Homo sapiens: one gene and its partners. The protein of the gene in region 2 purifies or fractionates together with the protein of the main gene of each other region. This does not show direct contact. Each region holds a gene or a part of one and is shown on either strand. Other genes may lie near its edges.

The links.
Region 1: the proteins of SSBP1 (region 2) and POC5 purify together in Homo sapiens (co-immunoprecipitation; one large-scale study listed by IntAct). This does not show direct contact.
Region 3: the proteins of SSBP1 (region 2) and MRPL39 purify together in Homo sapiens (tandem affinity purification; one large-scale study listed by IntAct). This does not show direct contact.
Region 4: the proteins of SSBP1 (region 2) and CEP170 purify together in Homo sapiens (co-immunoprecipitation; one large-scale study listed by IntAct). This does not show direct contact.

What each region holds. Positions count from the first base shown.
Region 1 is NC_000005.10:75,676,304-75,679,478, reverse strand, and holds part of POC5 (centrosomal protein POC5), read left to right. Parts: intron 1-1,528; coding exon 1,529-1,705; intron 1,706-3,175. UniProt on the Homo sapiens protein: Essential for the assembly of the distal half of centrioles, required for centriole elongation. Acts as a negative regulator of centriole elongation.
Region 2 is NC_000007.14:141,748,276-141,751,174, reverse strand, and holds the end of SSBP1 (single-stranded DNA-binding protein, mitochondrial precursor), read right to left. Parts: intron 865-2,899; coding exon 821-864; 3' UTR 687-820; downstream 1-686.
Region 3 is NC_000021.9:25,593,755-25,597,522, reverse strand, and holds part of MRPL39 (large ribosomal subunit protein mL39), read left to right. Parts: intron 1-108; coding exon 109-221; intron 222-3,564; coding exon 3,565-3,630; intron 3,631-3,768.
Region 4 is NC_000001.11:243,161,055-243,164,822, reverse strand, and holds part of CEP170 (centrosomal protein of 170 kDa), read left to right. Parts: coding exon 1-539; intron 540-3,768.

The DNA.
Region 1 (3,175 bases), on a different chromosome or scaffold from region 2:
ACATCTCTCCTGAAGCCCACTCTCTTCCCATTTCAGTATACAGCTGTGACTGTGTGTAGCTAGATGCAGCTATATGGAGAATCACAGATGAACTATAATAATCGGGAAAAGATTGATACTTAATAAATGCCTTTGGAAAAACTGTTTAGAGAAAAAATGAATTTAGATTAATACTTCACACTGGAATTTCAAATGTTTTAATAAGCTAAGCCAAAATAAGTAAATGTTATAAGAATATAACTACCTCAGCTGTCCAAAGCTGGTTTTGGTTTCATCATGGAAGCAAGAGGAAATTAATGACAGGATTAACCACAACTTAAAAAAATGGATGTGCATTGAAAATTAAGACAAATACATGAAATGGGGAAATCGTTTACACTCTGAGATAAGTATCTATAATTATTAAATGAGTTTAGTACTCGTCAGGAACTATTAAATTTAAATATTAATATCCTTTCAATTCTTAGCAAATAAGATGAATAGTTGACAAAATGGAATACAAATATGAAACATTAATAAAGAACCACAACTTGAATAGTAGATTTCACCTCAGACTTAAACAGGCGGCTGTGTAATTGATTGACAGTGGAAAAATAGTCCACTTACGTGTTATTCCTGCTGTAAATATTTTTCTGGAGTATTATCCAGCGATAAGCAGCAAAAGCTATAAAAGCTGATAATACTTTTTGATATGATCGTTCCATTGTTTGCAATATATTTTTATTATACAGAAGTAACTCTCAAAAGAGGATTTTTCTTTTGCAAAATGTGCTAAATGTAATAGAAAAAGAAAGACAAAGTAGTATGTTGGTATAAAAACCATCTCATTAAGAACTATAGCAGGTCTCTGTATTACCTCGTAAAAAAAAGTATATTAATAAAATGAGAAGGAAAAAAGGCAGAACACAGAAGCATATGTGTAATGATAATATTAATTATGCTTAAGGATCAAAGAGTCCATAAAACAGATTAATGGTTTCCAGAGGTTAAGGATGGTTGGGGAAGGAACAGAGAGATGGATATGACTGTCAAGGGTGGCACGAGGGAGATCTTCGTGGTGATGAGTATTCTGTATCTTGATTGAGTGATAGTTAACAGGAACTTAGGTGATAAAATGACAGAGATCTATACACAGGCATTATCTCATGGTGAGCTTCCTGGTTTTGACTTTGTTATATTCTAATTATGTCAGATGTAACCATGGCAGGAAACTGGGTGAAGAGCACACAGTACTTTTCAATATGATCTCTGTGTCTTTCTATAAATCTATCATTTAAAAAAAAAAAGTTGGTTTTTTAAGTTTCTAAAATCTTATAAAATCGTTGGCATACTCAGGTTAAAGGGATATTTTGGGGTGTTCAGTTTTGTTTTGCTTTTCGTCTTGTGATTTTGTTTTTTCCATGTTAAAGTTGGTTGAACATACAGTTATTTTAAGTGCCTGTGTATTCTTCATAATTTATGGAATCAATAGATTTTGCTGTGGATTTTCTGCCACCTTGTTACTTCTTTTATTTTTTTTTCTTCTTAGTATGTGCCAAGAGTTGTAACCTCTGCACAACAGAAAGCAGGAAGAACTATTACAGCCCGGATCACAGGAAGATGTGATTTTGCTTCAAAAAATAGAATTAGCAGCAGTTTAGCTATAATGGGAGTTTCTCCTCCCATGAGCTCAGTTGTTGTGGAAAAACATCATCCAGTCACAGTGGTGAGTCCACATTTGATGACCTTTTGTCAAAAAGTCTTTTTCCTGAGAGTTCATAGACTAGTAAACACTTACATAACATGTTGAGAAGATAAAAATTTATGATGACTGGTACTTGTTCTGCCTTTTCCTGTTACAGTTTTTTTTTTTTTTTTAATATATATACTTGTTTTTCTCAAACCTGCTATAAATCTACGTTTCTGCTGTTGGGAAATTAATTTCAGAAACATCGTTTCTTCCAAACTGTAAAAATTATAAAATACTAAAAGTAATCCAGTGTGTTTGTGGTCAAAAGAGTAAAATATGTAAATGCTTTATTATCAGTTTAAAAAGAGACAAAAATTGTTCACTCACTAGCTGCTCATGTAGCAGATATTTGATTACAAGAAAACTCCCCTACATTTATAGTTTTTAATTTTTGGTCCTTTTTTAAAAAAAGTCTTCCCCTTTTTTCAGTACAATTGTCAGCATGTTTTTAGTTTAACAAAATTCAACTTGCAGTAAATGCATGTGATATAAAGAAGGTGCATTGAATTTGAAGCAAAAATTTTAAAACCCGAGTTAGTGCTTCAGCTTTGCTACTTGTTGGCTTTGTGATATATACAAATCAAGTAAAATATTTGAGCCTCCACTTTCTCTTCTGTAAAATGGGGTTAATAAAAATAGTTAGCTCCTTGGGTTATTGTTAGGATTCAAGATTAAATGAGATAATGTGAAAATTAAACGAGATGTATTAAGGCATTTTATAAACTATAAAACCATAAGCAAATTTAACTTACTGAAAGTTACTAGAAAAAGATACATGAGATATCTCTGAATTATTTCCTACAAATGTGTACGAATCAACAATTATCTCAAAAAGTATAATAAGAGTGATAAGAACATCCCTAAAGAAAAACAAGGATTTATTTATTTATTTATTTATTTATTTTTTATTTATTTTTTTTTTTGAGACAGAGTTTCTCTCTTGTCTCCCAGGCTAGATAGAGTGCAATGGCGCAATGTTGGCGCACTGCAATCTCCGCCCCCTGGGTTCAAACAATTCTCCTGCCTCAGCCTCCCGAGTAGCTGGGATTACAGGCACCCGCCACCACCCCCAGCTGATTTCAGGGACTGATTTTAAAAGAGAATGCCCTCTATAAATTCTCAGCATCGGACAACGTTCCTGTGTACTTTCTAAGTATTAGCAAAAAAAAAGTATATGGAATGATTTTAAATCCTTTTTTCCCGAGTACTAGCTGGGCACTAGATGATTAAATGAAGACAAGCTGGATTGATTTGAACTGAACTTCAGGTGAAGTGGGACCTTAGCGAGGTGGAAGGCTGGAGATAGAAGCACCAAGTCCAGATAGAGACATGGAGATGACAGAGGATTTATTTTAGAATTATCTTAGGTTTCATGTTTCATAAGTTGGACAGACTCTGAAAGTTCGTAGAAGACTTTTCTATATATTTTTGAATATGGAAGACAAG
Region 2 (2,899 bases):
TTTCTACATAGACACTGTAACAGTCTGATCTCTCTTTCTTTTCCCCACAGATAACAGGGGCAGAGAAAGAACAGAACTACAGCTCCTGTGGCATCACCTGGAGATGAACGATTTCATCTCTAATTATTCAGGTCCTTATTGCTGGTAAACTATGTTTCATCAATGCTACTAATGAAACTGTCCAAAAACAAAAGATATGAAGAAGGTAGGTTAGTCTTAAAGATGTTTAGGTTAGACACTAACCACTGCTCAGCAACTCCCTTCAATTTGAGCTGAAGCTTAGAATCCCATTGGGATGATTCATCTATCAATGCTTACTGAGTGGCTATTCTATGTAAAGCATGGTTTAAAGTGCAGGCAAACAGAAGATTCAGTCCTTGCCTTCATGTCTACAGAGCAAAACGTTAAGAAAATCAATATTTACAAATATGGGATAAATGTCTCACATACAGTGATGCTCAGTAAATTCACTGATTGGACAAATCAATATTGTAATAAAAGTGTATACAAAAACCAGGAGACCTTCCCAAAGCATATTTATCCCTTTGCCATAACACAAATGAGCCTGAAAGTTTACTATTTTGTATACCTGTACATAGAAACCACCCTTAGAAGAATAAACAACTAGTAAATGCCATAACAGATAGTAGCTACCAAGATTATACCACAAAAAGGAGAGCGAGAACGACAGTCAGAAAAAAGATTATTACTCATTTTACGTAAAAGAGTATTTTAATTCTTGTCCTTGGAAGCCATAAAGATTATACATGACTTGGAAATGAGACTGTACCAAATGATGGCCAAAGAAGAATCATCCTTTCTACTCCTTCTCTTTCGTCTGGTCACTCAGAAATATAATATTATCTGTAAAAAAGCCAAAATGTAAATATTAATTTCAGAACTCTTTCTCCATCTCATTCAATAATTCTCCTCTAATACATATAACTTTAGTGCTGTTCATTAAAAGGATTTTAGCCATCTTTTCAAAATATTAAATCACTTGCTATGCTCACGAGAGGTATATATACAGTTGGCATAAGTGGAGCTACAAGTTAGGCACTGGCTGCTTTTCGAACAATTCAGATCTTGTTAGAAGAGGTGGGATATTTCTTGTCTTCCAGTCTTCTCAGAAACAATTTCCTGCAAAAGAACTGGTCACAAAATTGGATGCTTGCAATGGTCAGGCAGATTCCACGACACTAGGCAGCACATCCTCAGAGAAAAGGACAAAAGTGTATCACATTCTACACTCTGGGGGTCTAGAGGAAAGAGTAAGAGTCCATATGTGGCCCTGTTAGCAATGACAGGATTTACTTACGTTTTTAACTTTAAAAATTCAAATAGAAGAAATTTTATTTTTAAATTACAATACAGAATAACTTTTTGTTTTTCCTTTGGAGATGGAGTCTCTGTCACCCAGGCTGGAGTGAAGTGGTGCAATCTCAGCTTACTGCAACCTCTGCCTCCTGGGTTCAAGCGATTCTCCTGCCTCAGCCTCTCCAGTAGCTGGGATTATAGGTGTGCACCACCATGCCTGGCTAACTTTTGTATTTTTAATAGAGACAGGGTTTCACCATGTTGGCCAGGCTGGTCTTGAACTCCTGACCTCAAGTGATCTGCCCGCCTTGGCCTCCCAAAGTGCTGGGATTACAGGCATGAGCACCGCACCTGGCCCAGAATAATTTTAATATACCAATTCTTGGGAACATTTTATGAATCAACATCACAGAGTTAGCATTTTTATCCAAAAATATCAGACGTTGCTCTTAAAATGCTGTTCCAGAGGGAGTTAGCTAAAAATAAACAAAAGAACAGAGGCAAGTAGTAGTCATCCTTCAGTATCCATTGGGGGACTGGTTCCAGGACCCCTATAGATACCAAAATCCACAATGCTCAAGTCCCTGATATAAAATGGTATAGTAATCACATATAACCTATGTACTTCCTCTTATATACTTTAAATCATCTTTAGATTACTTACAATATCTAATACAAGGTAAATGCTATGTTAACAGCTGTTACACTGTATTGTTTCACTTGTATTTTTGTTGTTGTTGTATTATTTTTATTGGTTTCTTTTTTTCACATATATTCAATCTGTGCTTGGTTGAATCCACAGATGCAGAAACAAGGGACATGGAGGAATGACTGCATTTCCTTTATAATTCCAAAAGATTCTTGTAACTATAAAATTATCCACCAAGGACTGAATATTTGTTCATGACCATAGTCTTCCAAAAACTAGAATGTTTTGGTCCAGAACGGTTACTTCAGAACAAACTACTCGAATTAATATCACTGTGGAAAAAGCCAAGAGTGCCATCCACTGGTGGTGGTTTTTTAGTTACAGATAGGATCCCTAGGAGAAAAAAAAATCACCAATAAAACAGATCAACCAATAAACTCTATTTTCTTCAATTCAAATGTCACTGAAGAGCTCTTCAATTTTACCATTAGACATAAACCTAAAGTAAACTGACTGTGCTAGTGGAACCTAGTGACAAGGAAAAAAAACAAAACAGCATATCATCTGAAATGCTTCCGTTTGGCTTATTAGTAACAACTCAATAATCCGAACAATCTAAAGTTTGCCCACACTTGTGGTTTATATTGGGACCCACAGGAGGGTAGGAAAATACCTACACTGCTTTTCAAGGTTAATACACTTTCAAAGAAACTTAGCAGTAAGAAACCATGTGAGCATTCTATACAAATTATAAATTATTAATAAGGTATGGTGGTTAAGACATGAACTCTGGAGCAAAGGAAAGAAGAAAGATAAAAGGCAAATCTAAGAGACTTAAGGTAGAAATCATGTAATATAATGTATGAATGTTTATGAAGTTATCAAGGAAATTTGAACACTACGATATTTAGTAAAAAAATTAACAGTAATTTA
Region 3 (3,768 bases), on a different chromosome or scaffold from region 2:
TATTTTAGTTGGATTTGCAGTACTAAGCATAGAGTTTTGTTTCAACTGGCTTATGGAGAAATGCTTTTCAGTGAATTGTTACTAAAGGTTATTACTTTCATTTTTAAGGAGAACTTACGTTCCTTCACAAAAGATGCTCATGCTTTAATTTATAAAGATCTTCCATTTGAAACTCTGGAAGTTGAAGCAAAAGTGGCATTGGAAATATTTCAACACAGCAAGTAAGTGTTGGCTTTCTTTAAATCAAGGCTAACTCTCCCAGTATTATATGTAATAAAGAAAATTCAGGTCTTAAAAATTTTTATATTTGATATACATGTGACAGTGTATTATTTTCCAGTCTGAGACCTCTGTGATCTCATTTATTTCGCTGAGGAAAATGTTACCCATGTCCCTTGATAATTTTCTCACTTTGTTTTACTTCTCTGTTCTTGGACCAGCCTTTCTCATTATATCAACATAGTGGCATGTTTCCCTTTTTTCTTTCTAGTGTGAAGTGATAATGTACGTTAAGCGACTATATAATTGTGTGTATTTGGCAGTGTTTCTCTCCTACCCCTCCACACTTAAAATGACACTGATAAGATTGAAAATGCAAGCAGTTTGGGAGGGGGCTGACAGCTGAAGTAAAATGTTTACACAGCCAGGTCTTAATCTTCTGCATGTGAATTATTCATTTGATGGATTTTCTTTAACATTTTAATTCCTGCCTGGCTTCTCAGTTCTCAGAAAACTTTCAGTTCACCTTCTACTACCAGTTGTAAGAACATGAGCTAAATTTTAACATTAATCTAATACAATATTAGAACTAACTAGAAAGAGAAACCTGTGCTGTAAAAAAAAAAAAATAACAGAGTCTGAAGCCAAAATATGCACCTAAGAATTGTGAAAGTTTACTGATTAGAATTTCTTTAGGTATATAGAAGTTGAATTACAAATTCTCATAGGGATAGGTTATCGTAAATATATTGGGTTATGAGTGTGTTTTTGACACATACTTTATAGCTTGGCATTTCTCAAAGCAGTCTGTCTTATAGTATTCTTCTATAGGATGTTAATTGACATGTGAAACCATGTACTGTGTTAAGCTGAGTTTGAAGAACAGTGGCTTAAAAAATTTTACTCGGCTGGGCGCGGTGGCTCACGCCTGTAATCCCAGCACTTTGGGAGGCCGAGGCGGGCAGATCACGAGGTCAGGAGATCGAGACCATCTTGGCTAACACGGTGAAACCCCGTCTCTTTTAAAAATACAAAAAATTAGCTGGGCGTGGTGGCGGGCGCCTGTAGTCCCAGCTACTCAGGAGGCTGAGGCAGGAGAATGGCGTGAACCCGGGAGGCGGAGCTTGCAGTGAGCCTAGGTGGCGCCACTGCAGTCCGGCCTGGGCGAAAGAGCGAGACTCCGTCTCAAAAAAAAAAAAAAAATTTTTACTCATCGCACTCAACGGTCTCCCAAAGTGGACATTGAAAATTTCCCAAATATATTTGCCCATGAAACACTTTTTCTTGAAACATTTTTAGCGTGTCCTGGAACCAGTGGATTTAGAAACCAGTTGTAATGTACTGTTTTAACTAGAGTACAGATAGTATTGTAGAACCAAACCACCATTTATAGCATTGATTCGACAAGAAAATTCTTTGGACTATCTGAACACGTGAAGTCACTCTCTGTGACAAAAGTCTAGGCACATGCTGCCCAAAAGAAATATAATATGAGACATCTGTATAATTTGAAATTTTCTGTAGTTGCATTGAAAAAAAGTCAAAACAAAAGTTGAAGTTAATTTTAATGATTTTATTTAAATGATACATCTAAAATGTTACTCAGTGTAATCAATATTAAAATATTGATGTTATTTTATATTCTTTTTCACTAAATCTTCAGAACCTGGTATGTGTTTTACACTTAAGGCACATTTTAACTAGTACTAATCACATTTAAGTGCACCATGGTACTTTACTGGACAGTGTACTTTTGACTTCCATTCAGTACACATTGAGATTTCCCATTCCTCTAACTGTCAAGGACTGGTAGCGGCTTCTGGGACTTTTGTAACTTAGTTGAGTGTGTGGTAGGAGGAAGGGGATAATTCTGGAGGAAGCTTGATAGGACAAAAGAGTTGGTTCATTGAAGGTGGGTCAGTGATTGAGTCCTTCTGCTGCAGGAGTAAGGGTGGGACCTTTTTGTGGCTTTGACTCTCAGGGGACAGGAGCATCTCTTGGAGGTGGGTCAGGAGGGATAAGTATTCAAGGGAATTGGCACCCTTATTAGTGCCTGGGGGACTGTAGCAGTCAGTGGGTGTTTTTGCATAAACCAGTGTTCCCTAACTTTGCCACATAATTGTGCATACACCTGTGGTGCACCTACACATATTACTTGTTTAGCACCCTGAGGTAAACAGACAAAGCTCTCAATAGTAAATGGTAAAGTCATGGTTTGAACCTGGGCTGTGCAGTTTCATCTGTGCCTTTAGCTATACTGACAGAATTGGGTAGATTTGAGAGATACTGGGCAGTCAAATTGACAACTTGATAATGAATTGAATAAAGGAGATATGGTAGGAGAAAGGAATCAAGGAAATCTCCCAGGTTTTTCACATGGACACCTGGGTGGTTGGTGGTATCGTACTAAGACAGGAAATTCAGGAGGAAGAACAAGTTTGGGCGGGGAAAGAGGTGGTAATTTGTGCAGTTTGCAAATTTCAGGGTAAGGTGCTTGTGGAACATCCTAGAGGATGTCCAAATGGGTCTTGGATATACAGTTTGGTGGTCAGAAGAGGTAGGTAGATTAGAAGCAGAGATATAGGACATACAACTACATAAGTTGTAGCTCAAGGGGCTGACCTAGGGAGGATGCTTAGCGTGAAAAGAGGGTGTAGGATAGAATTCTCAAAGGGTAGAGAAAGACAGGAGTGGCCAGAGATGTAAAATAACAAGCAGTAAGGAATGCCACTGATACCCATGGAAAGAGCACTTTGAGGCTGGATGTGGTGGTTCATCGCTATAATCCCAGCATTTTGGGAGACTGAGGCAGGAGGATTGCTTGACACCAGGAGTTTGAGACCAGCCTGAGCAACATGGCAAGACCCTATCTTTACCAAAAAAAGTTAGCCCGGCATGGTGGCTCACACCTGTAGTCCCAGCTACTTGGGTGGCTGAGGCAGGAGGGTCGCTTGAGCCCGAAGTTTGAGACTGCAGTGAGCTATAATTATGCCACTGCATTCCAGGGTGGGTGATAAGAGTAAGACCCTGCCTCAAAAAAAAAAAAAAAAAAAAGAACAAAGAAATAAAAATGGAAAGAAAGAACACATTGAGAAGTGGAGGTGAGCATTGGTATTAAGAAAATGAGGACCAAAAAATGTCCACTGGGTTGACACCAAGCAGGTCTGTGACTTTGTTGAGAACAGTTTGGCAGAGTCATGGGGCTGTGGCCAGATTAAAGGGAGGTTCCAAGTGTAACCTACTCTCAGAAAGTATGGCTGAAGAGGAAGAGAAAGGGAGGTATCTTTAAACACCTTTTTACATATTTTGAGTTAAAAAAATGTTTTTTTCTTTGCTGCTTTTCAGGTACAAAGTAGATTTCATAGAAGAGAAGGCATCTCAGAACCCTGAGAGAATAGTCAAGCTACACAGGTAAGTAAAAGTCTAAAAACTGGCTGCTATGTTAGAGTAAGGCTTAGCTTTATTGTTATCTGAATGAAGCATATGACCAAAAAAGATGAATTTGTGTCTTATTTTGTTCTTATTACCTTATTTTTGGTTGCTTCGTTC
Region 4 (3,768 bases), on a different chromosome or scaffold from region 2:
TTACTCTTGTAAACCTCATGGACGGACTCCACTTACCTCAGCTGATGAGCATGTACATTCCAAACTGGAAGGAAGTAAAGTAACGAAATCTAAGACTTCTCCGGTGGTATCTGGTTCATCTAGTAAATCAACCACCCTTCCAAGGCCACGACCTACCAGGACTTCCCTCTTGCGCAGAGCACGACTTGGTGAAGCTTCAGACAGTGAACTTGCTGATGCTGACAAAGCATCTGTTGCTTCTGAAGTATCCACAACAAGTTCTACATCAAAACCTCCCACAGGAAGGCGTAACATCTCTCGGATTGATTTATTGGCTCAGCCTCGTAGAACACGACTTGGCTCACTGTCAGCTCGTAGTGACTCTGAAGCAACAATTTCTAGAAGTAGTGCCTCTTCGAGGACCGCAGAAGCCATCATTAGAAGTGGAGCCAGACTAGTACCATCAGATAAATTTTCTCCTAGAATTAGAGCTAACAGTATCTCTCGACTCTCAGACTCCAAGGTCAAAAGTATGACCTCAGCTCATGGCTCTGCTTCAGGTAAATTGGATCCAGATTTCTAATAGCATTAGCATGTTGTATATTTGGGGGCTCCTTTTTTTTTTTAAAAAAAAAAGTAAGGTTCTAGTTGTCTTCCCAAGATACTCATTCAAAACAAAAGTTATGATATACGGGGCAGCGGCGGTGGGGGGTCTATAAAACAGTTTTATTTAGCATAGTAAATGGAAAATCAGAAGTTATACATACTTCCAATTAGAGTCCTGGCGCAAAATAGTGATTTCAAAACTAGGAATTCATTGAGCTGATTTAGGAGTTTTAATTTTCCAGTTGGTGCTATATTTGGATGTGTGTGTCAAAATTAAATTATCTGGAAGTATCTGGTTTAAAGTATAGGAATTAACATTGTGCTTCTAAAAGCATGTGTTTAACCTTTAAATATCCTCACATAATTCAAAGCCCTTAAGAACTTGAAGAAAAGCAGTATATGCTTTATTACTCCTTTCAGAGTTAAATGAAATAATCAATGTTTTCTTTTTTTTCCCTACCCATTTTGAAATGTCTCACATACTTTACCTATACTTTTTAAAGTTAAATCTGTTTATAGTTGGAGCAGGTGAAAACTAACCTTAATTTATTTCAGTGGAAGAAGATGGATTCATGGGGAATCACTCAGCGTATATTGGCCAAACTGGGCTGTAGAAATTTAACTGGTTATGAGCATTATCTCACAAAGTGCTGTTATATCATTTAACTCTAGTAATTAGGTGTAATTGAATATAATAACTACAAAAACTACTTACTTTCCACCAGAATTTAACTGATGCTGTTATATTTGTTTGCTTATGTGCTTTGTATTCAGAGCTGAGGCCATTGAGATACATGTGTGACCAAAGAGTAATGAGGTGGATATTTGTTTGTGTCCTATATGCATGTTCTCATTACTTCATAATGAGCCTCATATGTGGACGTGGCTGCAAAGGCCAGTGTGGGAGGCCAGCTGTTACAACGGACATGAAGATGTGTGATTATTTTCAGTAGGCAGACATCTAAGTAAGCCCTAAGTCTTGAGTTAAGAGTGGAGGGGAAGTTGATATGAAATTTCATCTTTTTATTTTTGATTGGTTTACATCTACCACACCATCTCCTACAAGACCCTAAAGGAACAGTACTTTGCATATGATACTTTTTTCACTTTTCTTCCTCTTTTCACTGCTGCTTTCCTCCACTCCATTCACCTGTATCTCTTTGCTGGTCAGTGGGTTTGGTAATGATGGTCACTGTCTATGGTAGAAATGGACGTAGGGTGAAGCCAGATAGCATATAATCATGATTCCAAAAAAAATAGACAACATTTTCCTTATTACCCCAGTCCTCATTTCCACACTTGAAGCTTTGGTTGGTGGTTCACAAATTTATTGCCAAATATTTTAAAACTAACTACTACATTTTGGTTTATTTTCATTCTGTTTTTGGTTATGGCTCTACTTCAATTCACATTTCATCTGTGCTGCATTTCCTGATGAAATTTCTTCTGCTGTACTCCTTGTTTTATCACCTCATCTCCATTAAGATATGTATGTATTTTCCTGTCTTAACATAATTTCTATGTTACCAGATAGCTTGGAGTACCTCTTAACACATGATGTGGTTTTATTCCTCGATATTTAGGATAAGGCTTGAGATGCAAGCTAAATATGATTACTTCAGCAAGTCTAAGAAACAACTGTAAGATGCTATATATAAAGACAGATTTCATTTTCTGCTTCTTTGAATACAGAACTTGATAAATACTCAGTTTTCTGTGTCCAAAAATAACCTTGAATTGTGTATGAAATTCCCTAGGACACATTGATGTATATGATTTTAGTCTTTTCATACTTACTAGCAGTATATTAAATAATTAGAATCATGGAATTTAAAAGTTAGAAGGGTTATTCTCTTAAGGGAACCAAGGCCAAGAGAGGAAATAACCTGCCCTGGGCACATGGCAGTGGCAGGGGCAGAATAAGAATCAAAGACTTTTAATCCCCAGCCTGTTTTTCTACCGTATCTATTCTAGCTCTAAGAAATAGTTTCAGTGTTTACTTGTATGCAAGCTTCCAGAAGACAGCTAGAATCTACTGGATTATTATCAGGAGTATATGCAAGGTCAATATACAATATAAAGGTTTTGGTATTGTTTACTAAAATCTTTGCAGTTCTGATGTTTTACCCAGTTTATATTCTCTATTCCACCTTATGAGTGTAAAGCCATATTGTAATCTAGGATTGTATATTCAGATTCTCTCAAGATACCCACTTATAGTATTAGACCTTATCTAGGACAGTGGCCAGGATCTTTCCTTCAGTGAGAACATACTATAATAGCTGTATGGAAAAGGTGGTCAAACAAACAAACCTACCTGTTTGATTTTGCTAATTTGGTGCCTTTGATATTATAACATTTCTTTTTAAGATAATTATAATATTTTGAATGGAAAAAGAAAAGCAAAATTTTAACTTTTGAAACATGATTTAAAAGAATGTTAAATCATGCCGATCAGTGTTGCTGTGCACAGTATAAACTTTAAAGACCTTGGAAATAATCTGAACCTAGCACTTGTGATATTGTCCCAATTGGATATGTAAAAATAATTCCATAATGTTTCCAATTCCATATTTTAGATGATGTCTCTAAAATATTTTTAGGCCAGCACAGTGTTTCATGCCTGTAATCCCAGTATTTTAGGGGAGGCCAAAGTTAGAGGATTACTTGAGCCCAGGAGTTCAAGGCTGCAGTGAGCTGTGATCACACTACTGCATTCCAGCCTTGGACAAGTGAGACCCTGTCTCCATTAAAAAAAAGTTTTTTTTAAAGAAATGTATGTGATAAAAATAGAAGATTGGAAATCTCAGATTTAGCAATATGAAGAGAAGAGTTCTGTATGTTTCTCTGATGTAATTTGCAATTTGCTTCTAGGAGTTTAACTAGTTTTTTTTTCCCCAAAACATTCTTTCAGTGCTTCTTTTTTTTTTTTTTGAGACGGACTCTTGCTCTTGTTGCCCAGGCTGGAGTGTAATGGCACAATCTCGGCTTACTGCAACCTCTGCCTCCTGGATTCAAGTGATTCTCCTGCCTCAGCCTCCCAAGTAGCTGGGATTACAGGCGTGTGCCACCATGCCCGCCTAATTTTTGTATTTTTAGTAGAGGAGAGGCTTCACCATATTGGGCAGGCTGGTCGGTCCTCCCGTGTCAGCCTCCCAGAGTGCTGGCATTACAGGCATGAGC